Linked DNA regions of Homo sapiens: all the other regions are linked to region 1. The links come from fine-mapping of genetic effects on gene expression. A gene starts in region 1. Each other region holds a variant in brackets. All regions are shown on one strand. Distances are between the middles of the regions.

What was found. PIP is the estimated chance that this variant, and not a neighbour inherited with it, causes the effect. A credible set is the group of variants that fine-mapping cannot tell apart.
Region 2: its variant is the best candidate, but not a certain one, in a credible set for the expression of TSPAN18 in aorta (GTEx, PIP 0.55).
Region 3: its variant is the best candidate, but not a certain one, in a credible set for the expression of TSPAN18 in whole blood (INTERVAL, PIP 0.64).
Region 4: its variant is the best candidate, but not a certain one, in a credible set for the expression of TSPAN18 in lung (TOPMed, PIP 0.83).
Region 5: its variant is the best candidate, but not a certain one, in a credible set for the expression of TSPAN18 in whole blood (TOPMed, PIP 0.87).

Annotation. Positions count from the first base shown.
Region 1 is chr11:44,724,074-44,729,175 of GRCh38, forward strand. It overlaps TSPAN18 (tetraspanin 18), which reads left to right and starts at 2,889. Exons shown (of 10, transcript NM_130783.5): 1 at 2,889-3,214. The region is part of intron 2 of TSPAN18-AS1 (TSPAN18 antisense RNA 1); the gene reads right to left. RefSeq lists enhancers at 1,417-2,277, 2,278-3,139, 2,506-2,675, 4,391-4,893, 4,894-5,102 and silencers at 2,866-3,015, 3,852-4,021.
Region 2 is chr11:44,860,490-44,865,591 of GRCh38, forward strand. All of the region lies in intron 3 of TSPAN18 (tetraspanin 18), which reads left to right. Among named protein-coding and RNA genes, the nearest start is that of TP53I11, 88 kb to the right of the region's middle. RefSeq lists enhancers at 1,009-1,636, 1,637-2,264, 2,365-2,414. The variant A/G (reference allele first, on the strand shown) is at 2,301.
Region 3 is chr11:44,672,156-44,677,257 of GRCh38, forward strand. No RefSeq gene overlaps it. Among named protein-coding and RNA genes, the nearest start is that of LINC02704, 27 kb to the right of the region's middle. RefSeq lists enhancers at 1-139, 140-918. The variant T/G (reference allele first, on the strand shown) is at 2,205.
Region 4 is chr11:44,695,069-44,700,170 of GRCh38, forward strand. It overlaps LINC02704 (long intergenic non-protein coding RNA 2704), which reads right to left. Exons shown (of 3, transcript XR_931234.3): 2 at 1,153-1,245. Among named protein-coding and RNA genes, the nearest start is that of LINC02704, 3.7 kb to the right of the region's middle. The variant A/G (reference allele first, on the strand shown) is at 2,718.
Region 5 is chr11:44,754,863-44,759,964 of GRCh38, forward strand. All of the region lies in intron 1 of TSPAN18 (tetraspanin 18), which reads left to right. Among named protein-coding and RNA genes, the nearest start is that of TSPAN18-AS1, 21 kb to the left of the region's middle. The variant G/C (reference allele first, on the strand shown) is at 2,362.

The sequences.
Region 1 (5,102 bases):
CTGTCGCCAGGCTGGAGTTCAGTGGCGCAATGTCGGCTCACTGCAACCTCTGCCTCTCGGGTTCAAGCAATTCTCCTGCCTCAGCCTCCCGAATAGCTAGGATTACAGGCACGTGCTGCCATGCCCAGCTAATTTTTGTATTTTTAGTAGAGACGGGGTTTCACCATGTTGGCCAGGAGGGTTTCAATCTCCTGACCTCGTGATCCACCCACCTAGGCCTCCCAAAGTGTTGGGATTACAGGTGTGAGCCACTGCACCCAGCCCACAATTACTTTTGCACCAATACATAGAATTATGTTTCCCAATTGAGAGGACATTCGAGATGTTCAAGGAAATTAAGGTCATTGGAGGTAATCCAAGGGCCTCCAATACCCTAATTGACCTGGTGAGGAGTGGGAGTGGAGGGGGTCCCTTCCCAATTCTCTTTTCATCAATGCTCTTGATGAAGAGTTTGTTGCTAATGTGTCTTTAACACCTTTCTAGCCTTTGGTAACCTTCCTTTCAAAGAGAAAGTGGGACCTCAGCTTCAACACCTCCTCAGGCAGCAGTATCTTGTTAGACTGTATTATTATTATTGTGGTTAAAGATACATTGTTAGAATTTAATAACACTTATTTTCATTGTATTTATTTTGATGGTTACCTTCTATTTATAGTAATGTGATGCTGGCTTTCCATTTATGGTAATAATTTAACATATCTTTTTAAAAACAAGCTCACTTAAGTAAATTAAAAAAGAATGAAAAAATAAGAGTTGATTTAGAGAAGCCTATTCAGCAGATGTCCTTAGCTAATGCACAGATAGGGCCAGGTCCTCCATGGAGGCTGGAGAGAGGCTGAGGTCCAGGAAACTGACTTGGAACTGGAGTCAGGGACCGAGCTGGTTGTCTAAGTTGTGCAGCGGGTCTGCACTCTCTTCCCCTGCGCCTGCCCCGTTCTGCCAAGCCCCAGACCCTTAGAGACTCTATCCCTCTCTCTGCCTGTCTCTGGTCTCCACTTCCCCAGCTCCAGCACCCTTGCTGTGGGCTTCCCGTTTTTCCTCTTTAAATGTATGTGGCGCCTGGTGTCCAAGGAGGCTCACACGGGGCCTCTCCCAGCAGCATTCCACAAGTGCAGGGCCTGTGGGGTGTTCAGCCTCCACCCTCCATTCTGTTTTGGCAGCTGAAGGGTGAATGTGGAGCCCTTCTCCTTGTCCTCCTCTTATAGAAATTCCACCATTAGGGACTTCCTCCCCTTGGGTGAAGCTTTGCTCACTCTGGGTCCCTTTGAAACCGCGGATCCAGGGATTTTTCTTCCAGCCACGTGCCTACTCTAAGAGTCCCGGTGACGCGGTGAAGTTCTTTAAAGGACCAGACATCCCTGAAGTCCTTACAGGGACATCCCCTTACAGGGACGAATCCATTTCCTGGAATGTGGGCAAGGAAAGGCAGCCACTTCCTGCCTCTCAAAACTCTGGCTGGTGGCTGGGTGCAGTGGCTACGTCTGTCATCTCAGCACTTTGGGAGACTGAGGTGGGAGGATCACTTGAGGCCAGGAATTGGAGACCAGCCTGGGCAACATGGTAAGAGTCCAGCTCTACAAAACACACACGCACACACACACACACACACACACACACACACACACACACACCAAAAACAACAGAAAACATTAGCCAGGCATGATGGCACATGCCTCTGGTCCCAGCTACTCGAGGGGGCTGAGTTGGAAGGATTGGATTGCTTGAGCCCAGGAGGTCGAGCCTACAGTAAGCCGTGCAGGAGGTCGGGCTACAGTGAGCTGTGCTTGTTGACCAGGCTTGTCCAGCCTGGTCAGCAGAGCGAGACCTTGTCTCAAAAACAAAACAAAAACAAAACAAGAAGATCCCCCTCCCCCCAAACTCTGCCCAGTGGCCTGACTACCAACATCCATATACAAGACAGGAGTAGGGTCAACTCCTTCCTATCAGTCACCCCTTAGTGAGAATCAGCTGGCCAAGGGGCCTCCTGCAGAGCTGATGTGTGCTTGAATGCCTAGGGCCCACGGGGATGGGGTGTGGAAGCTTCAAGCTGGGACTCAAAACAGAGTTGCCAAGGGAAGAGGAGTGGGCGACCCGAGCCCCTGTCATCAGTACTTTCACTTGGGCTGTCAGTTTTGATCTGCTTGCTTGTCCGTTTTGTCTGGGGCAGGGTCGGGTAGTTGTTTAGAGGAGGCTCAGAGGTTAAAAGTCTCAGGCAAGTCATGTCAGGGGTTGGGAGCCAGTGCTGCTGTGGCAGCAGTACAGAGAAGAAAAGATAAGCTCCCCAGCCCCGCAAGAACCTCAGCCCTGAGGCCGGAGACACAGATCTGGCCCCTTGCAATCAAGTCATTTGCATCTGACCTGGGGTCAGGCCCCTCCATGCAGGAAGTCCCCTTTCTTATCTGCAAGTCAGAGGAGGGTGAGTTCCCCAGGCTTTCAACAGGTACTTCCCCCGGCAGCGGGAAGCCCAGGAGCCCGATCAGGACCGAGGATCTCACCCCAACCCCTGCGTTTGGGCCCCGGGGTCAGCTGAAAGTTCCCCTGGAATAAACACTTCGGGTCCAGCATGCCCCTCTCCCCACTCCCGCAACGATCTTCCGAATTCAGACGCAGAGAGGGCCCGCGAGCAGAGCGGGAGGTGGTCGGAGGCGGAGGAAGGGGAGATGGGCAGAGGGTGGGCCCAGGGACCCCCAGACAAGGCCTGGACGCGGGGTTGGAGGAGGAGGCGGAGGCTGGCGGGAGGCGAGGGGCAGCCCGCAGAGGAGACGCGCTTCTCGGCAGCAACGGCGTCTGGAGCCGGGAGGGGCGGAGGTTTGGGGAGGGGGAGGGAGGGCGGGGGAGGGGAGGGACGGACGGCGGCGGAGGTGGGGCCGGCGGGCTGGCGGGCGTGCAGCTGCCGCCGGCGTCGCGGGGCTCCAGGCTGCGGGGCGGACGTAGCGCCGAGCGATCCACCGCGGAGCCGCGCGAGGCCGCCCGAGCCCCAGCCCCGGCCCCGGCCCCAGCCCCGGCCCCGGCCCCGGCCCCGGCCCCGGCCCCGGTCCCGGCCCCGAGCCCCGAGCGAGCGCCGCCGCCTCGCGCTGCGGGTCCCCGGACGCGCCGCCACCGCCGGGAAGGCAGCCGGCGCCGGGCAAGTTGCGAGCGCGCCCCTCCGACCAGGAAAGTTTCCCCCCGGCCGCCGGCGGGATTTGGCGCGGGGTCCGGCAGCCGCCGCTGGAAGGTATGGGGCTCCGCACCTCCGTGCCCTCCGCACGCCGCCGCCGCGCCCCCGGGGACCTGGGGACCCCCCCGCGCGCCGCCCCGGGGGTGCTGCTGGACGCGGCGGGGAATTGGGGTGGAGTAGGGATCCCAGGACGGAAGCCCGGCAACCAAGTTCCACTCAAACTAGCACGCGGGGGCTGGGGGGCCGGGGACGGTCTCCACCCCGTGCCTGCCCGGAGTCCGCTGAGGGCCGGGGGCTGCGCCCAGGACAGGTGCAGAGCCGGTGGGCTCCCAGTGCTCCGGGTGGAGGAGTGGGGGCTTCTGGAGAACGGCGCGGGGTGGCAGGTGTGGTTACAAGGTTCGGGGTTTCGGCCAGGGCTGCGCCCGGAAAGGGGCTGCTCGCCACGCCACCCGGTAAGACAGTGAGGGACCAGGGACTGGGAGCGGCGATCGGGGCCGGGAGGGCTGTGGGGCCCGGCAGCTGCATGGAGGGCGGGCTGCCTTTGGGGTCCCTGGCAGCGGGGCGGGGCGGGGCGGAGGCGCCACTCGTTCCTCCAGGACCCCCCTTATTCCTTAGGTGTGTGCGGTTTGGGGAAGTGGAGACTCCATGGAGTGCTGGGTGGGTGGGAGGCTCGGGCACGTCCAGATTTAGGGGGCAGTGGGAGCCAGTTGGGACGGTGCTCGGCTCGGGTGGGATCGCGCCGGCTCCGGGTCCTGCTGGAGTGAGGTGACTGGGCTCCCGCCAGGGGGCGCACTGCCCCGGCCCTCGCCAGCAGGAAGCGCGTTCTGGCTCCTGCGAGGCAACCGCGCCGACATCCAGGACGCAGGGACCACAGACACCCAACTTACGCGGGGTCCCGCCCCGAGGAGCCCGCCCTACACTAGCCAGACGGGGGAGCGGGACCAAGAGTGAGGCGAAAGGTTCACAGTTATAACTGCGCCGTGGGCTGGAAAGGCTAGGAGTCAGGATGTGATTTTTCTCGGGAAGGCTGCCAGGGCAAATGGATGAGTAAGAAATTTACCCCCAGAAAAAGATGTAAGAAACTACAACTGCGAATTGGTGCAGAGAGAGTGGGTTGGGGAATTAACTTTTTGACGGTTTTTGGAGTTGCAGAAACCCAAACCCCAAAATGCATGCACCCTTTTTGTAAAAGTTGCACCTTTGTTTCCTGGATCTGGTCGAATCCCTGTCTGGTGAAGGCAGGATGGGGGTCTTGGGGTATCCTCTCTCTGGGCACAAGTAAACTGGGAGGCACAGGGCGGGCGGTGGGGGATGGGGCCTTAAAGACTTCAGCAGTCCAGGCAGAAGTGTTAAATTTCTCAGCAGTCAACGAGCCCTGGCCCCCACCCTCATCCCCTGGGTCTGTGGTCTCTAGGCCACATTCTTCTGGTCATTTCACAATTATTGGTGGAAATCTGCCCTGGGTCCCAGTTGTCTGGCCTCAGGGTCCCTGTATGTTGAGTCTGTGTGTCTGTGCCTTGGGAAGTCGACGGCTGCTGGCATCTGTGAGGACTGTCATCTTTGTCATGTGCGGGGCTAACATTGAAGGGACATTGGAGGGACTATTGCCTCATCTTTCTCTCCAGTTCCCTCCCTCCTCCCATCACCCCAAGTGAGTGCAAAGGAGCAAATCATAGATTGTGCCGTGGCCTCATTGTGGTTGGTAGAAGTTTTCATCTTTCTCTTAGCTGGTAACCTGTGCTCCTTGGGCAGCCCCCCTCCTGCTCCCATGTCCTTAATGTCCCTTACAAAGGTGGGGGAAATGGGGGTCCCTGAAAGAGATGAGGTTCCTCTGTTCAATGTAGTCTGCCACATGTTTTTGTTGGATGCTACTGAAATGCTCCAGGACAAAGTTGCCATAAAGACAGATCAGCATGATTTTTATTTTGAATAGAAGAGGAGGAGG
Region 2 (5,102 bases), 140 kb after region 1:
TCAGCAAGGGGATTTCTGCTACTTTTGTTGTTGCTGTTGTTGTTGCTAAGGGTAACCATCAGCAGGGCACCTGTCATTCTCTTTCATGCATCAGTGTCTGTCTCTCCCATCACACCAAAGGTCCGTGGGCAGGATAGTAAGGGGTGCAGATAGTGTGAGTGGATCTGAGCCAAGGTTGCTGGGGTCTCACTAGATTAGCCAAGAAGATAACCCTCGGAGGGGCCAGACAGCTGAGAAGGCTGAGGTGCAGGCTAGCCCACCAGGTTGCTGGCCCATGCCCCTCAAGCTCAACTGGGGAAGGGTGGAACTGTTGCCCAGGTAAGCAAGAACCAGTGGTGGGTCAGAAGTAAAGGTTGGCTGCAGTGGGTGGTGAGAGGGCAAAGGCTGAACTGAGGTCAGATGCTGCATCATTTGGGAGCCAACACTCAAACTGGATTAAGCAAGACAGGCCATTTATTAGCTTTTTAAAATTGGTTTCTAATATATTGGTTTCTAATAATATATATTCCAAATATATATATTCCAAATAATATATTTGGGGCCTATTTATTGGTTTCAAGGCAGGCAGGGCTGAATCCAGGGCTCAAATGATGCTGTTAGGACCGTATCTCACCACATCCGTGTCCTCTGCCTCCCTCCTTGTGAGCTTCAGTCCTCGGTAGCCACTCTCCATGTGGCCGCAGGGCAGGCACCTGCAGATCCAGACTGACGCCTTGCTCATTTCAAATCCAATGGAAGGAGAGCTTCTTTTTCCCAGGCGGTCCAACAAAAATCCCAAAGTCAAGGCTTATTGGATGGTCTTGGGTCACATGACACCTCTGCCCAATCACTGAAACCTGGAGGATAAGATATGCTGATTGGCCAGACTGGGTCAGTTGGTCGGGGGGCAGTCGGTGCGGGGGTTGGTGGGGTGCGGGTGGTGCTGAGGGAGGTGGTCGGGGCTGTGGGGACTGGTCGGTGCTGGGGTGGGGGCGGTCGGTGCTGGGCGGGGGGTCGGTGGTTGGGGGTGGTGTGGTGAGGTCGGTAGGTGTCGTGGGTTGGGGAAGTCAGCCTGAATGCATGAGAGGGGATGGACTTGCAAGGGAAAATCCAAGCATTATTTTTAGAAAAAGGAGAAAGGAATGCTGGGCAGACAAAGCAGCAGATTCTCCCTACTGGTGTCATGTTGGGAGTCGGGGGCGATGAAGCACCCAGGTGGTCGCATGTGTCCCAGTTGGGATTCTTCCTGTGATTTATGGTACCAGGGTTGGCCTCTCTCTAAGTGCCTCATTTTTAGTGAATCTAGTATCTGAAAGCCCAAATTTCACACACACACACACACACACACACACACACACACACACACAGCCCCCATGCCTCTGATGGATCTGAGAGTGGTACTTCACGTTCCAAAAAGATTGTTCCAGAAGGTCTTTCTCATAAAGAGTCCCTGCACTCTCTGATGGCCGCCCCACTATTTCAGCCACCCCAGCGCCTGGCTGCCTTGAGTAGACCTCCACTCGCCGGGAAGGCCTGTTCCTTTTTCCCCCCACCTCCACTCCTTCATGGCTGAGGGGAGTTTCTTGAGCCTCTTTAGGGTTTTTTGCGCTAAATGGGCCCCTTCCCAGAAGACCAACCGCAGCCTTGCTTATCTGAAGCCCCTTAGAGGGACAGGGGAGCAGAGGGGGACGGGCACTGGTTGAGTGGAAGCTCCGTCTCTGGGGGCACGAGGGTACACGTGGCCAGGCCAGCCTGGCAGCCCTGCTGCCCTCCGCCGCGGCAGCTCTGTCCTACATTTAGGGTGCGATGTGTGATTTCATTTGAGCAAATATTCCTCTGCAGAAAAAATACCGAAAACCACAGCTTGTGATGCTGCCTCCCAGGCAGCTGCCCCTTGCTTGGTTTTGGTCAACCACAAACCTCCTGGCCCTCCCCCAGTCTCTCTCGCTCTGTGTCTCGCCTGTGGGCTCCAAAGCTCTGACTCACCATGCAGCCAGCTCAGCGCTCAGCACCACCCTGCCTTATATGGTGAGCTCAGCACCTCTGGGTCAATGAGTGTTAATTCATTTATTCAGCCAATGGCTGTTGAGTGCCTATCATGTGCCAGGAGCTGTTTAAATGCTGGGGATTGAGGGTGAGCAAAGCCCAAAGGTCCCTGTCCTCAGGGTTCCCTGACCTCTCCTCTGGGAGATCTCCTGAGGGCAGGACCCTCCTCTGGGTGTCTTGCCCCCAACCCCTCGCCTGATGTCTCAGACAGTGCTAAACCATAACTGGGCTGGCTTGGTAGATATGTCGGTCAGTTACTTTCCACAGCATTTTGT[A/G]AAGCCCCCACCTGTGCCTGATGCAGCAGAAATAGCAGAATGACTTGGTTCTCAGCCTTTAGGACTTAGGGTGTAAGGTGCCACTTGTCATGGCCCTGGGGAGGAGGAAGGGCAGCTGTTAGAGAGATCTGTATGCAGACCTGCTCCTGGAGTGTGCACCTGTTAATAAAACGAATCATACAAGCTCCACTTCCCAGGCATTCGTCATTCATTCAGATGCACTCAACAGGCACCTCAGAGGCCAGATTTTTAAGGGAGACGATCAAAGTCAAGACATCCAAGGTAAAGAATGGGAGGGTCCAGAGCTGAAATATAAAGGAAGGCTTGGGGGTTCAGAGGCCAGAAGGAGATGTTACTGCTGCACAGTGGTGGTGTAAAATCAGGGGATGCAAGGCCTGTGAGCTGTGCCTAGATATAGGCCAGTTTCGGACGTTAGAAAGGACATTCGGGAGGAAGACACAGTGAGAGCAAAGGCCTGGCAGTGGGACCCTGAGGCTTGAAAGACTGTGCCAGGCAGGAAGCCAGATGAACTCGGTTAGCCTTCTTTCCCGCAGGCCTCCAGGCTTGGCCGTGCTGGGCCTGGGGCCATCTTGTCTTCAAGGCTGCTTTCAACTACAGCTTGGGTACGGAGTTTAGTAGCGCCTCCCTTTTCCTTTTGTCCTCTTCTTCCCTGGGAAGGGGAGTTTTGGAGGGCCCTTTCAAAGAGATGGTGCTGCACAAAGACCAAGAGTTCTTAATCCTCTCATTCCTGAGATACTTTACAGAGCTTAGGGCTCATTTTCACTTAGAGCATTGCAAGCAGCTGCCCTAGTGGCATACCCTGGGCTGGAAGTTGGGAGACTTGGGTCCCTGCTGCACTACTGATGTCCTTAGCCTCCTGGCCTATAGTTTGTCAAGCTCCTTCCGCTTGAAACATTGTATTCCATGTCAGACCTGGGTTCGGATCTGAGCTCTGCTAGCAGTACAGCCTCAGTATTCTTATAAGTAAGTTAGAGATAGTAATAGTCACTTCTCGTAAGACTGTGTGAAGATGGAAGGAAATACTTGAATGACAGAAAGTGCTTAACAGAGCACCTGCCAGGGATCAGCATTCAGTGTAGTACTGATGCTATTTGGTGTTGTTATTATTTATATTTCAATCATATTAATATAACTCTGTGGGAGTCTTCAGTGTATAGGTGCCTGTTGGTCCATGTCCCAAAAAACTTGGTGATGGGGACCGGGCACGGTGGTTCATGCCTATAATCCCAGCATTTTGGGAGGCTGAGGCGGGCGGATCTCAAGGTCAGGAGTTCGAGAGCAGCCTGGCCAACATAGTGAAACCCCGTCTCTACTAAAAATACAAAAATTAGCCGGGTGTGGTGGCATTCGCCTGTAGTCCCAGCTACTTGGGAGGCTGAGGTGGGAGAATTGCTTGAACCTGGAAGGCAGAGGTTGCAGTGAGCCAAGACCGCACCACTGCACTCCAGCCTGGGTGACTGAGTGAGACTCCGTCTCAAAAAAAAAAAAAAAAAAAACTTGGTGATGGGGTGGGGTGTCACACCCCTCCCATCTCCGAAAAGTGTTGGGGTTGGGGCTGCCTTACCCAGAATCACATTTATTCATTCATTCACCAACACTTCATTGAGCACTTACTGTGTGCCTGGGCCTCTGAGAGGCACGTGGGGTCCTATTGGATAGGATGCTCAGGGTCCCTGCTCTCGGCAGCTCAGGTCTTCAGGCTGAGGCCTTGGGGAAAATCCCACCCCAGCTTCCCATGGCACCCGAAGCTTTGTTCAACCCTCCCTTGCCATCTTGGGCCTAAGGCCTGGGTGAAATGCCAGAGCATCCACTAAAATGGACTGGTCCAGTGTTGCACATGGACCTTATGGGGTGGATTGCCAAGTCCCAGTTCAGCATCAGGAAAACTAAGTGTTTCACGGGGAAGATGGGCTTGCCCTGGGTGCCAATGGCAAGGTCCTGTTTCATTTTTCACCCCCCTTTGATGCTTCTTTGGATCCTGAACTGCAAAGGGTTTTGATTATTTCTGGAGGACGCCAAGCCTGTACATGGAAGGTGCTGGGGGTCCAGTCTGCCCCTGTGTTTGCCTGGCGGTCTCCTTGTGGGTATCTCACCCTCTCTGGTCTCTGGCAGCCAGCAGAGCCTGCCATGTGGGGCATCAGCCAGAGGTTGGTGAATGGATGGATGGGTGGAAGGATCACAGTGGATTTACTGGAATCGGTGTTGTCCCAGCCTCAGCCGGGGTGGTTGGACATACCAATCTCTTGGCTTGTTTTTCTGTGACAATTTGATTTTGGCTCCCGTGGAATATAAGGAATTTTCAAGTAGTGGAATGGACTCAAAACAAATGGCTTTTGAGCTGATTAAGTTTCTCAGTTTGATTTCAGGGAGGCAGCCTGGTGTGTACCCTGATTTAAGGACAGAGCTTGCAAACGCCAGCTCTGAGGCTGGGTGACCTTGGGCGTGTTATTGAGTCTCTCTCAAATTCTCAACTCTCATCTAGAAAATGGTAGCACTAATGGCATCATAGGGCTGCGATGAGCTTTAAATTAAATAATGAGTGTTAAAACAGTTGCAGAGCTCTGGGCACGTGGTAAATGCTCAAGAAAGGATGATGATGGTGTATTTAATGAACACCCTTAAGCTATTTGTTGCATCTTCTTGCTCCCACACGGGTTTTTCCAGACTACTTTGCATTTGTAAGACAAAAAAGTTACTTTGAAAAGTTATTATTACACAAGCAATATAGGCTTCTTAAAAATTCAAATGATCTGGAAGGATTTAAATTAAAAAGCAAATTCC
Region 3 (5,102 bases), 52 kb before region 1:
TAAATAACTTGTTTTGATTTTATAGGCTCATAGGTGAAAGGAACTCATTTCCAGATACAACTTTGGACTTTGGACTTGGGACTTCTGATTGAGTTGATGCTGAAATGAGTTAAAACTTTGAGGGACTGTTGGGAAGCCATGATTGTATTTTGCAATATGAGAAGGACATGGGCTTTGAGGTGTCAGGGGTGGAATAATATGGTCTCAATATATATCCCTACCAAATCTCATGTTGAATTCTAATCCCCAATGTTGGGGGTGGAGCCTGGTGGAAGCTGTGTGGATCATGGGGGCAGATGCCACTTTGCTTGGTGCTATCCTTGTGATGGTGAGTTAGTTCTGTGGGATCTGATTGTTGTAAAGTGTGTCACCTCCCCTGCCCCACTCTCCCTTGCCCTCACTCAACCAAGTGAGACGCCTGCTCTCCCTGTGCGTTCCACCATGAGTAAAAGCTCCCTGAGGCCTCCCCAGAAGCTGAGCAGATGCCAGCACCATGCTTCCTGTATAGCCTACAGAACCATGAGCCAATTAAACCTATTTTCTTTGTAAATTAACCTAGTCTCAGGTATTTCTTTATAGCAATTCAATAATGAATTAATATACATAGAAAAGGTAAGATGAACCTGGAGCATCTTGTAATGCCAGAAAGAAAGTGCTTACAGAAACAAAGAGGATGGAGGCATGTCAAAAGGACACAATATGCTCAACATCATAAATCAGTAGGGAATTGCAAAATACAACAAGATACCACTACACACCTATTAGAATAGCTAAAAATCTAAAACACCGACAGTGCCAAGTGCTGTGAGGATGTGTGGCAACAGGAACTCTCATTCATTCCTGGTGGAAATGCAAAATGACATAGCCACTTTGGAAGGCAATTTGGAAGTTTCTTACAAAACTAAACACACTCTTACTATACAGTCTGGAAATTGTATTCTTTGGTATTCACTCAAATGAGTTGAAAACTTAGAGCCACACAAAAACCCACACATGTATATTTACACAGCTTTTTCATAATAGCCAAAACTTGGAAGCAACCAAGATGTTCTTCAATAGGTGAACAGATAAACTGTGATACATCTAAACAATGGAATATTATTCAGAGATAACAAGAAATGAGCTATAAAGCTGCAAAAAGACATGGAGGAACCTCAAATGCATATTGTAAACTGAAAGAAGCCAATCTGGTGAGACCCCCCCCTTTCTAAACAAAATAAAGCAAATCTCTTGGGTGGGCACAGTGGCTCACACCTGTAATCCAAGCACTTTGGGAGGCCAAGGCCAGCAGGGGCATTGCTTCAGGCCAGGAGTTCCATACCAGGCTGGGAAACATAATGAGACCCCATCTCTACACAAATAAAAAAACTATCCAGGCATGGTGGCATGTGCTTGTAGTCCCAGCTACCTGGGAGGCAGAGGTGGGAGGATTGCTTGAGCCCAGGAGTTCAAGGCTTCAGTGAGCTAGGATCACACCACTGCACTGCAGCCTAGGTGACAGAGAGAGAGACTCTCTCTCTCCGAAAAGCCAATATGAAAAGGCTTCTGTATGATCCCAACTATATGACATTCTGGAACAATGGTGACACGGTTTTCCTGTGACCCCACCCAAAATCTCATCTTGAATTTTAATCCTCATTATCCCCACGTGTCAAGGGAGAGACCAGATGGAGATAATTGAATCATGGGGGCGGTTTCCCCATGCCGTTCTCGTGATAGTGAGTGAGCTCTCAGGAAATCTGTTGGTTTTATAAGTGTTTGGTAGTTCCTCCTGCATTCACTCTCCTTCCTGCCACCTTGTGAGGAAGGTTCCTTGCTTCCCCTTCACCTTCTTCCATTATTGTAAGTTTCCTGAGGCCTCCCCAGCCATGCTGAACTGTGAGTCAATTGAACCTCTTTCCTTTACAAATTACCCAGTTTCAGGAAGTTTTTTATAGCAATGTGAGAACGGACTAATACATATGAACACAGTAAAAGGATCAGTGGTAGCCAGGGGTTCAGGGAGAAAGAGGGAAGATGTCTAGGTGGAGCACAGGATTTTTAGGGCAATGAAACTATTGTGTATGATACTATGATGGTGGACCCATGTCAGTACCTATGTGTCAAAACCCACAGAATGCACAATTCAAAGAGTGACTACTCGTGTAAACTATGGACTTTAGTGAAAAATAATATATCAATATTGGCTCATCAGTTGTCACATA[T/G]GTACCACAGTAAGGCAAGATACTAATAACAGGAGAAGGCGTGTGTGTGTGAGTGGGGGTGTGAGGGAATATATGGGAACGCTCTGCACTTGCTGCTCAATTTTTCTATAAACCCAAAACTGCTCTAAAATATCAAGTCCATTAGGTAATAGAAAGGAAAAAGGACAGAGGAACCAACCTGAAAAAAGCTCCCAGTGGCCAGGGCTAGAATAATTTGAACAACAAAATAGATCGTGATACTGTTGGATTATAATGCAAAGAATAAAATAAAGATACACAAGGTCATACTGGTACAGACAAATGATTGACTAAATAAATAAATGGGGGAGACGGGAGACTAATCTTTATAGAGAATTCCAGATAATAAATGTGGGATGTAATCATGTGAATAATATTCCAAATAAGAAGGATGGGGGCAATAGAGCATCACCATTAGGAGACAAGTGCTAATGACTGCAGGCAAGATCCACTGATGAAGTCCCCAAAGTTCCTCTCTAAAATACTTACTAATTACTGTGGTGATTTTAATCTATGTCCACAAATTATTTGATACTCCTCCCTCAAGGAGGAGGAGATGAATTCCCCTCCTCTTGAGTAAGGGCTGGATTAGTCATGCATTTCTAAGAATTAGAGTATGAAAGGAGAAAAGCAGTGACTTCACAGCAGACAAACCTGGTAGATGCCACCTTAACTAAGTGATCGCGGTTAACATCACCTGTAATAAGTCATGTCCATACTATATACCACGTGATAGGCATTTTTACCTTCGTGGTGCTCTTCCCCCAAATCTGTCTCAATGTAATCATGAGAAAACATCATGCAAATGCAAATCGAGAGATCTTCTACAAAACATCTGGCCAGGACTCTTCAGAAGTGTCGAGGTCATGAAAGACAAGGAAAGACAGAAAAACTGTCAGAGATTGGAGACCAAGGAGACGCTGATTACTAAAGGATGAAATCCTTGGGTAGAAATAGGAGATGAGTGGAAAAACTGGCGAAATAAAGTCTATAATTTAGTTAATAGCCTTATACCAATGTTAATATCTTAATTTGGACAAACAGGTAAGATGTTAGCATTAGGGAAGCTGAGTGAAGGGCATATGGGGAGCATTTTGCAAATTTTCTGTATATTTAAAATTATTTCAGCTGGGTGCAGTGCCTCATGCCTATAATTCCAGGAATTTGGGAGGGTGAGGCAGGTAGATTGCTTAAGGCCAGGAGTTCAAGACCAGCCTGGGCAACATGGCAAAACCCCATCTCTACAAGAAATATGAAAATTAGCCTGGCCTGGTGATGCATGCCTGTAGTCCCAGCTACTTGGGTGGCTGAGATGGGAGGATGGCTTGAGCCTGGGAGGTTGAGGCTGCAGTGAACTGTGATTGAACCTCTCCAGCCTGGATGACAGAGTGAGACCTTGCCTCAAAAAAAATTTAAAAATAGGGCCAGGCACGATGGCTCAATCCTAGCACTTTGGGAAACTGAGCGGGGAGGACTGCTTGAGGCCAGGAGTTCGAGATCAGCCTGGGCAACATAATAAGACCCCTATGTGTACAAAACAATGAACAAATTAGCAAATTAGCCAGTCATGGTAGGTGCATGCCTGTAGTCCCAGCTACTTGGGATGCTGAGATGGGAGTATGACTTGAGCCCGGAAGGTACTCAAGTGACAGAGCAAGACCCAGTCTCAAAAATAAATAAATAAATTAATTAATTAAATTAAATAAAAATTAAAAATAAAATAAAATTTTAAAATAAAAGGCTTAAAAAATAAATTAGTAAATTAAAATCAAAGAACTGCTTAATTTTAGATAAATACTTTTTTACCTCAAGTGATATGAGTTTTTACAAGGCTTTTTAAAGTTAAGAAACATAATTCTGTAAAATATTAATTATGAGATTATATTATGTTATTTATTTATTTTTATTTTATTTTATTTTATTTTATTTTATTTTATTTTATTTTATTTTTTGAGACAGAGTCTAGTCTTGCTCTGTTGCCCAGGCTGGAGTGCAGTGGCAGATCTTGGCTCTGCAACCTCCACCTCCCAGGTCCAACAGATTCTCCTGCCTCAGCCTTCCGAGTAGCTGGGACTACAGGTGCTTGCCACCACACCTGGCTAATTATTTTGTGTTTTTAGTAGAGACAGGGTTTCACCATGTTGCCAGTCTGGCCTCGAACTCCTGACCTCAGATGATCCGCCCACCTTGGCCTCCCAAAGTGCTGGGATTACAGGCATGAGCCACCATGCCCAGCCAATTATGTTATTTTTTTAAATGGCATTTTTCCAACTTTATCCCTTACTGGTTGACTCTTGCTGTGAAAAATGAGGAAATTAGCAGATTCACAGTTTCTCTCTGCTTCTCTCCTAGATCTCCCAATTATTGTTAGTCACTTAATGATATTAGTTTTATTGTTGATGTTTATATAACCTTTGCACTGTGTACTATACTCCAAATTCACAAAGATTTTTATTTCTATATTTAAATTGATTCAGAGCTTGTCACCAATATGTTTACCCTGGCTTCTCCATTCTGAGCTATTTATTTTAATAAATCCCTTTGTTGGCTACATTTCATTGCCTAATTTTTTGTTTCAAGAAGGACTAAGAGGCACTCATTCCCTAAATTCTAGAACTCTTGAGAATGTCTGTCTATGGCCTTTCAATTTGAAGGAAATTGTCTGGGTATAAATTTCTCGGGTCATACTTTCTATCCTCTGGGAGCTTGTAGACTCTGCCCCACAGACTCTGGCATGTTCCTAGAGAGAAGCCTGCAGCCAGCCTGATTTCCCCCACTCACGTGACTTGAGATTTTTTACCTGGACTCCCATATGATTCTTTAGCCTTGTATTTCAATACCTTCATTAGCGTATAATGCTTGATGCTGATGGTCTTGAAT
Region 4 (5,102 bases), 29 kb before region 1:
TATTCACGCCATCCTCTTGCCATAGGTTCATAAACGGTTCTCCTCTGTTTATTTATATAAATAAACACCCAAGACCTGGTCATCCAACACAAGAATCAGAACATTAACCAGCACTTGCATCTGTCTGTGGGCTTCTTCCCTGTCTGACCATCAGCCTCCCCTACCCAAGGAAGCCACTATCCTGAAGCTTTCTGTAGGTCACATGATCATCCCTAAACAAATCACTGTGGCCTGGGGGACAGAACAGGCTGATTGGCCAGGTCTGGATCAGGTGATCATACTTGGAGTCAGGGCCTGGGGTAGAATTAGCCCCATGCAATGCACGTGGGTGGAGGGGAGTGAGGGTTGGGTGGTTTCCCAAAGGCAATCTGAAGGGCCAGGGAAAACAAGAGCCATCAACCGCACTTTGTCCCAGGCTCAGTGTCACTTGAACCAAGTCTTCCCACAGCACCACAGGGCTCAGGCTTGCCCTGCTGACCCCCAAGGCCTGGACCTGAAGCTCCTGGAAGAACAAGAGTTGATGAGAAAGGACATTCTCACTTCCTCCCACGGTCTGGAGCCACAGGCTGGAATCTCCAGCCCCACCTCAGCTGAAGGAGTGGGGAAAGGAGGCTGTCTCTGGGGGACTCGTAGAGGGCAGGGCAGCAGGCTGGGGTGGACAGGGTCCTGCTGTTTGACTCCTCCTGCTCCTCCTCCTCATTATTATCATGTCCTCAGGGCATGACCCAGGTCATCTCATTTAGTCTTCCCATGGTTTTATGTGGAGGGTCATTATTATCCCCCTCTCAGAGCTGAAGCTTCCAAGGCTGGCTAGTGAGAGACTGGCATGTGTTTACCCAGCAAAGCGGGGTCAAGCAGAGCCGTAGAGTCCTAGAGCCAGGTGGCCCTGTGGGACTGGCTTAACCCTTACGTTGGGGAACCCAGAGCCCAGACAGGTTAGATTCCCTGTCCCAGGGCCTACAGTGAGTGATGGCTCATAGCCTGACTCCTAATTCAGGGCCTGCTCCATGAAGCCAGATGAACCCAGGTGTGAGACCCGGCTTCTCCCCTTCTGATTACTTAAAGTCTGTGTCCCTCGGTGACCTCGTCCGCAAAAGAGGATGGCAATGGGCCCCACGTGGGAGCTTACCGTGAGGTTAATCACGTTCTCACCTGCAAGGTGCTCAGCATAGTGACTGGCACATGGCGAAGGCTCACGAGTGAGGGCCCTTTTCAAGATCATCATTTAGCCCCATGTTTCTCCACCTGCAACACGGGAAGAAGAGAGGCTCAAGTCATCTAAGGGGTGCGGCCATGCTTCAGAAAAATGTAATATTGAAATAGTCCCAGAGAGGTAGTACAATGTGGTGATTAAGAACGCAGACCCTGGGACCGGCCGAGGTTCCAGTCCCCACTCTGCCATGTATAAGCTGAGCTTTCTTGAGCAAATTCCTTAACTTTTCCATGTCTCAGTTTCCTCATCTACATAATGGGGTTAATAACAGTTGCTGTCTCCTGGAGTTGTTGTGAAGATTAAACAAGTTAGCCTCTGAGTGAAGTGCTCTGAACAACACCAGGATATGGCTAAGGACTTTGTAAGTATTCACTGTTACCAAAAATGCTGGTTATTAGCTGTCACTTTGGACAACCAATCATAGTTATAGAAATAAAATAGAATGTAAATGTTGTTAATCTTCCCAATATGAAATAAAATCACATAGTCAACAAACATTCGGGACTGATTGTTAATTTCCTCACCTTTTATGGAGAGTCACTAGTAGACAGTGCCTAGAGTGGATAAATGAAGAAACAGAAATGTATTTTTTAAATTAATTGATTGATTGATTTTGAGACAAGGTCCCTCTCTGTCACCCAGGTTGGAGTGTAGTAGCATGATCATAGCTCACTGCAGCCTCAACCTCCTGGGCTCAAGCAATACTCTCATCTCAGCCTCTCGAGTAGCTGGGACTACAGGCGAGTGCTACCATGCCTGGCTAATTTTTGTATTTTTTTTTTTTAGAGACAAGGTCTTTTGATGTTGCCCAGGCAGGTTTCAAACTCCTGGGCTCAGGCAATCCTCCTGCCTCGGCCTCCCAAAATGCTGGGACTACAGGCGTGAGCCACCAAGCTCAGCCAGAAATGTATTTTCTATGATTTAGTGTGAAAAAAAAAAAAAAAAACACACAAGCTGGGCACAGTGATGCGTGCCTGAGGTCCCAGCTACCTGGGAGGCTGAGGTGGGAGGAGGACTGCTTGAGCCCAGGAATTCAAGTCCAGCCTGGACAACATGGCAAGACCCTGTCACTTAAAAATTTTTTTTAAATAAATAACAATGAAAAACAAACTTGGAGTGTTTAGGAGAACAGAGAAACTTACTTTTTATTATTTTTTAACCATATGCATAGGTTCGTTCCATGAGAAAAGTTTTTAACAAATTGAAAACAAATAAATGACGGTAAGTCATTTATAAATCAGTAACAGTTCAAAGAAAGCACTTGCTCTCTATGTTAGTAAGAAACAGGAGATGGAACAGAGAAGTCCACACGCCTACTCCAATTAGAGTTCTTTGGGCAGCAAGCATGTATTACTTATAACGAGAAAATATGTAAATGAAATAAACTTGAAGCAAATGTGATGATTTTGATTCCCAGCAGGCAGGAATATGACACCTAGAATCACACTGTCCCTTCCTCTCACTCCTGACCAGGCCTGGGCGGGAATTCCACTCCTATTATCGA[A/G]TGTTGCAAAAATCCCAGAGCCGCCTGGATCTAATCCTGGCTGGGCCTTCATATCCAGGTGGGCCTCCAAAGCAGGGATGAAGTTGCCCTGAGCAGCTTCCCAACCCAGCAAGAAGCCAACTGGCTGCTGGAGCCAAGAAAGGCTTGTGCTTAGCTCGCTTCATAGAAGGTCCTAGAACCGGGAGCAGATAGTTCCAGGCAGTCCCAAGCATTAGCTCACCTGTGAGTGGTAATAAAAGGGGCATTAGAGAGCTTCTTTCACCAACCTGTATCCATTCATTCACTCACCCATCAAATGTGTGTTAAGTCCCTAGCAATAGTGTCTAAATTCTCACCACTTCATAAATACTCTGCAACCCTGCTTCCAGATCCTCACATGCCTGACACCTTCTTTCTATGTGGATGGTGCATAACATTCCCATTAATATTCTGAAATAAACCCCATGGATGTTGTAACCTACCTACAGGCACGATTTTTAAAAATAACCATATACAATGTCCTATCTGTAACATAAATAGGAAATATAAAGAATGTCCCGTAAAATAAAAACTGTACTTGAACAAGTAAGCACTCAGGCCCAGCTGCTCTGGAAGACATAGGAAGCAGTCAGGGGCTTGCAGCCTGCGCAGGACCACCATCAAGGGGACAGCTACAGATGTACAGGAACGTGGGGCACTGAGCCGAGAAGCCAACGTTCTAATCATGTCACTGTCAGATGCACGTTTCCAAAATTGTGAGCAGTTCTTGGCATGTTCTGAATAAAACTAAATATAGAGTTCTCTTCTCTTGTTTTTGTCTTTAGTTGCATCCTTGAAAATTCAGTATATATTCAAAGTGTGGAAAAATGCTTTATATTTACATGTAAAGCAGAGCTAAAGTCTAGACTCACATAATGATAAACATATTTTCTTCCCTACATGAATGTCCAGCAGGGCGTGTGAAAGTCACGTGGCTTGTGGGGACAGTTCCTCACTGGGCTGCATGATCCCACTTTTTTTTTTTTTTTTGAGACAGTCTCACTCACCCAGACTGGAGTGCAGTGGTGCGATCTCAGCTCACTGCAACCTCCGCCTCCTGGGTTCAAGCGATGATCTGCCTCCTGGGTTCAAGCGATTCTCTGCCTCCTGAGTAGCTGGGACTACAGGTGCGTGCCAACATGCCAGGCTAATTTTTGTGTTTTTCGTAGAGACGGGGGTTTCACCATGTTGGCCAGGCTGGTCTCAAACTCCTGACCTCAGGTGATCCACCCACCTCGGCCTCCCAAAGACCATCTCCCTCTTAACTAATCACCTGCCTTCCCAGACCCACCACCTGCTCAGTTTAGTGGTACTCCCCACCTGACCTTATCTTTGTGACAATCGAAAATGCCCCCCATTCATTTCCAAATCATCCCTGGGGGCAGTGCCACTCAACTGAATGTGTCGTTTAATCATCTCAACAATCTGATATAAGAGGTACTAACATTATCCCCTTTTTACAGATGAGGTGAAATGGCTGAGCCAGGACCCTCACCGGAAGTTGTCTTAAGTCCACGCAGTCTGCTATACTTCCTTCCCGCGTGTCCATTGGGCCTGCAGTGGCACTGGGGACCCAAATATGAGAAAGGCATCCCAGCTGGGGGTTGCCAATGCATAGACCCCCCTGTCTATACAGCATGGCGCAGATTCAGACAGAGGAACATATGGCATGCTGGGATATGCAGCAGAGGAGTGAGCAGAGAGCAAGAGCACCACAGCTAAGCCTGGGGTAGAGATGGTGGAGGAGCGAGGGAATGGCATTCCAGGCGGGGGAACTGCATGAGCAAAGGCATGGAGGACAAGGCAGCATGAAAGGTTCAGGGTCTGTGAGAGGCAGGGGGTGGTGGTGGGGACATAGGTCTGGACAAGCAGGCTGTGCTGTGATTGTGAAACCAGAGAGGCACGGTCAAGCAGTGTGGTTGGGCTGGGTAGGCAATGGGGAGCCATGGGAGGTTTTTGAGCGGAGTAGCTCCATGAAGGTGTTGGTTTTAGAACAATCCCTGGGAGCAGGGAGGAGAGTGAACTGGGAGGGTGAGGCAAGGGTGTGCCTCCAGTGAGCGTGCGTCTCCACAATCCAGGCCAGGGATGTGGGTGGGAGCAAGACAGCAGAGCCCTTTCAGAGGCAGAATTAGCAGCCTCACAACAAACAGGCTGTGGGTCCAGGGTGAGGAGGAGCCTCGAATGACCTTGGAAAACAGGTAACGGCTGGAGGAGAAACAAATTCAAGCAGACCTGGGATCTGGGTGAAGACATTTTGAATCTGAACTCTTTCCCCAACACTGCATCTCCACTGCTACTTCGTCTGCCCGGAACAGTCACCCTCGGCTTTAAGTATGGCTGGGGCTCCTGCTAAATGTCCCCTCTTGA
Region 5 (5,102 bases), 31 kb after region 1:
GATGTGGGACAATGCCCACCGATGGCAAGAGGTTTTGGGCTGCCACAGGCTACACATGCTCTTTCCTACTCAGTTGACCAGTGCGGCTGTGTCTGTCTATGGCAGGTCCTACACAGGAGGGCACACAGAGACCCTGGCTGGCATGTGCTGTCTGCAGAAAAGCCCCAGACCAGATGGGAGGCGTGAGGGGAAATGATTCTTAACAGCAGTTGCATTGAGAATAAACAGTCTCAGGCAATCATTTATGGGGATTGGGACATTCCCTCCCTCCCTGGCCCTTCCACCCTCCTCATCCCACCAAGAGCTAATGGGCTCAGATCGGAAGGCCCATGCTTCTGGGTAGACCCTTGGGGCCCCTTGCTGGCAGTGCCCAGAGCCTGCTGCACTGTGTCAAGTACAGTAAGGAACAGCCTCCTCTTTCTGAGCAGGAATAGATCCCCATCTTTCTGAGGATGTCATGGTTTCACTTCAGCCCCACTGAGACCCTGAGGCACAATTAACCAGGCTGATTGGGACTCATTCTGGGAACAAAGGGTGCTGGGCCCAGTGACAGGACGAGCAGGTGGGAAGCGCTTCCCTCCCCCAGCCAGACAAGTGCAGGTGGAGAGCCCGGCAGACACTGCAAGGTTCTCAGCGCTCAGGTGGCTTCATTAAGGGCTGCCCTGGGGTTTGCTGAGCTGGGGACGCAGCCCCAAGACATCCTGAGCATGCCTTGGCTCTCCTCCCTCTCCCCTGCCCCCACACCAACCCCCTATGTAGCTAATTTAAAACAAAGCAAAACAAAGCCCTGGCTTTGCTTTGGAGCCATAAATTGCAGAGCTTTTATCTGTCAACAAGCAATGCATCAGGCTGGCAGTGGCCCAGCCTGGATCCTGTGGCCTGGCATCGGCTTGGGAGACGAGGTCTGAGGCTGAGCTGGCATCCAGGGTCTCCCTGAGGACGCTGCTCCTTCTTGGGGCATAAGGCCAAATTCTTATGGCCTCGGGACTCAGAAGGGTGGCTATTTCTCCTAGGAGCCAGGAAGAGATGTAGGGTGACTAGGGTTGGGAGTACAGAGCCAGGGTGGGGAGAAGGGGAGACAGAGAGAGAAATGGAGAGAGAGGGAAAGAGAGATGGAGAGAGAGATGGAGGAGGGAAGAGGGAGATGGAGAGAGAGTTTGCCAACAGAAGCTAACCAGGGAAAGGCTTATCACTGGGTTGGTCAACTCTCTCTCTTCCTTTGTTCCTTGCTGCCTCTTCCAGGAAGTCTTCCTGGCTCTCTTCCTCCTCTGAAATCCGACTGACTTGGGATTCTAGGACAACAGGAGACTCTAAACCAGTGGTCTTCAATGTTATCTGGAAAGTTAATATATAAATTATTGTGAAGTCCAATTGTTGTGAATTAAGTGTGTTGTGTGTGTGTGGAGGGGTGTAGCCCCCATCTGTTCTTTGTGAGAACAAAAAGGAGGGAGGGAGGGAGGGAGGGAAGGGTTCCCAGGAGAATAACTTGGAATCATGAATCATAGCTACTCCCTTTTTTTCCCCATTTTTTTTTAGTTGTCATAAAATACAACATAAAATTTACCATCTCGGCCATTTTTAAGTACACAGTTCAGTTATTTTAAATACATTCATAATGTTGTGCAACCGTCCATGCCATCCATCTCCATAACTCTTTTTATTTTGTAAAATGGAAAATCTATATCCATTAAGCAATAATTCTTCCCATTTTCCTCTCCTCCCAGCCCCTGGTAACCTCCATTCTATTTCTGGTCTCTGTGATTTTAACTATTCTACATGTTTCATGTAAGTGGAATCATGCAGTATTTGTCTTTTGTGACTGGCTTTCTAAAATTTAGCATAGCATTTTCAAGGTTCATCTATGTTGCAGCGTGTCAGAATTTCCTTCTTTTTTAAGGTTCACTAATACTCCATTGTGTAGATAGACCACATTTTGCTTATCCATTCATCTGTTGATGGACACTTGAGTTATTTGCATGTTTTAGCTGTTGTGAATAATCCTACTCTGAATATGAGTGTACAAATATCTCTTTGAGACCCTACTTTCTTTTCCTACTGTCTTGTTCCTGATCTTAGAAGAAAAGCTTTTGGTCTTTCACCATTGACTACGATGTTTGCTGTTTGCTGTGGGTTTTTCATATATGACTTTTACAGTTTTGAGATAATTTTCTTGTATTTTTAGTTGAATGTTTTTATTATAAAAGGATGTTGAATTTGTCAAATGCTTTTTCTTTTGGGTATATACCTAGAAGTGGAATTGCTGGATCACATGGTAATTCTATTTTTAATTTTTTGAGGAACTGTCATACCGTTTTCTACAGTGGTTGTACCATTTTACATTCCCACCAACAGTGGGAACAG[G/C]GTTCAAGTTCCTTCACATCCTAGCCAACACTTGTTATTTTTTATTTTTTATTTTTTTTTATAGTAGCCATGCCAGTGGGTGTGAAGTTGTATCTCACTGCAGTTTTATTTATTTGTTTACACTTGATCTTAGCCAGAAAGCTGAGAAATGATTATTTATTTATTTATTTATTTATTTGAGACAGGGTCTCATTCTGTTGCCCAGGTTGGAGTGCAGTGGTGTGATCTTGGCTCACTGCAGCCTCTTTCTCTCATACTTAAGTGATCATCTTGCCTCAGCCACCCAAGGAACTGAGACTACAGGCATGTGCCACCATGCCCAGCTGACTTTTTGTATTTTTTGTAGAGACAGAGTTTTGCTATGTTGCCCAGGTGGGTCTTGGACTCTTGGGCTCAAGAGATCTGCCCATCTCTTCCTCCCAAAGTGCTAGGATTACAGGCAGTGTGAGCCACTGTGCCTGGCCTCATTGCAGGTTTTGATTTGCATTTCCTAATGTTTAGTGATGTTGAGCATATTTTCATATATTTATTGACCATTTGTATATCATCTTTGGAGAAATGTCTTTTAATCTTTTCTGCCCATTTTTTAATTGGGTTTTTTTGTTGTTGCTGAGTTTGAGTTTTCTATATTTTCTGGATATTAATTCTTTGTGAGATATATGATTTGCAAATATGTTCTCCCATTCCATGGGTTGCATTTTTGCTCTGTTTGTATTGTCTTTTGATGCACAAATTTAAATTTTTTTCATGAAGTCTGGTTTGTCTATTTTTCCTTTTGTTGTCTGGGCTTTTAGTGTCATATCCAAGAAATCATTACAAAATCCAATGTCAAATTGCTCTGGCTAGAACTTCTAATACTGTGTTGAATAGAAGTGGCAAATATGGGCATCCTTGTCTTGTTCTTGATCTTAGAAGAAAAGCTTTCAGTCTTTCACCATTGAATATGATGTCTGCTGTTTGCTATGGGTTTTTCATATATGACTTTTACTGTTTTGAGATAGTTTTCTTATATTTTTAGTTGAATGTTTTCATTATAAAAGGGTGTTGAATTTGTCAAATGCTTTATGCACCATTTGATATAATTGTGTGGGGGTATTTTCCTCTTCATTCTGTTGATGTGGAGTATTACCTTGATTTTTGTATGCTTAACCATCCTTGCATTCCAGAAATAAGTCCCACTTGGTCATGGTGTATAATCCTTTTAATATGCTGCCAAATTCGGGTTGCTAATATTTTGTTGGGGATTTTTGCATTAGTGCTCATAAGGGATATTGGTCTGTAGTTTTCTTTTCTTGTAAGTGTCTTTGTCTGGTTTTGGTATAAGAGTAATGCTTAGCTCAGTGCCCTTTTTACAGAAAGTAGCGGCAGATTATATTTTACAAAATTCCTGCTGCTTCTGTGTATCGAGTGTTTATGATAGGCTGGGTACTGTGGGAATCATTTGCAGTCTATTAGCTCATCCAATCCCTAGTTCAAGCCTGTGAGGTGGGACTATGGTTGTCCACACTTTGCAGGTGGATATCCTGAGGTTTGCTGGGATAGAGAATTTTCCTGATGTCACATTGGTAGCAAGAGGCAGAACTGAGATTTAAACTCAGGTTTGCGGGGGCACAAAAGCCTGGCTTCTTAACCACAGTGCTTTACATTGATTTCATGCTGGGGGCTCCTCATCTCCTACCGTGTTTCCTACCCCTGTTGAAGATAGGCAGCAGGCTATACTGGGGAATTAGTCCCTGTGCAAAGCCCATTCACAGGAACCATCCAAACAGTGCTATGCTGTTCAGTTATCCTGACCCTTTACCGATTTTATAGTTCCCCCAAAATGGCATCTTTGCAGGGCTTCCATCAGCAGCTGTCCTTCTGCTGTAAATCAGGCAGTTTGCCTATCCCATGCCTGTTCACAAGCTGGCTTATTGAACACAGTTGGCAAAGCAACTGCCCTGCATACTGGAGCTTGGCTTAGACACAGGAAAGCTTTGGTCTCCTTGTGGCACTGTTTAATTCTTCAGCACCTGGGTCAGCAAAGGCCAAGACAAGAGGCAGCTCTGACCATTCCTTCCCGAAGGCCTTACCTGTAGATCTATGGATACAACAAGTGGTACAGTGGGGTGAGCTAGGGGGTGATGGTGTTTGACGACGTGGTCTCTCCTCAGACCTACTGACTCTGGAAGACTAAAGCTAGGCTCTTCAGAGTCCTAAGAGTCTCAGTTTCTCAGGGTCTAGAGAAAATTATACAAGTAGTTGAGGGTCATTCATTCTCTCTCTCTTTCTCACCATTAACCTAGTTCTGCCTTCCCACATTCATTTAACTCATTGTTTTATAGATCCACTTGTCTTCCCTCTGTCCTTCTATTCATCCCTGTGTTCATCCATCTCTCCATCCACCCAGTCATTTTCCCATCCCTCAACCAATTATAGCCTAGTTCCTTCTTTCTACCATTCAAGTTCTTTTATAAATCCATTCACTACCCATCCATCCATTTCTCCTAGCAACTGTCTATCCATCCAGCTATTATTTGCAGAGTCAGGAACTGAGACTCAGAGGGAGTAAGATACCACCCATATCTTTGAGGAACTCATAGTCTGGTAGGTGGGAAAAATCACATGAGCAAAAAATATACTATTACCTATACACACAATTTGTGATGTGAGCCCGGAGAACAATGACTTATGCCTGTTGAGAGAGTGGGAAGGTTTCACAAAGGAGTTAACTGAAAGAAGGTTTTGAAGGATGATTAGGA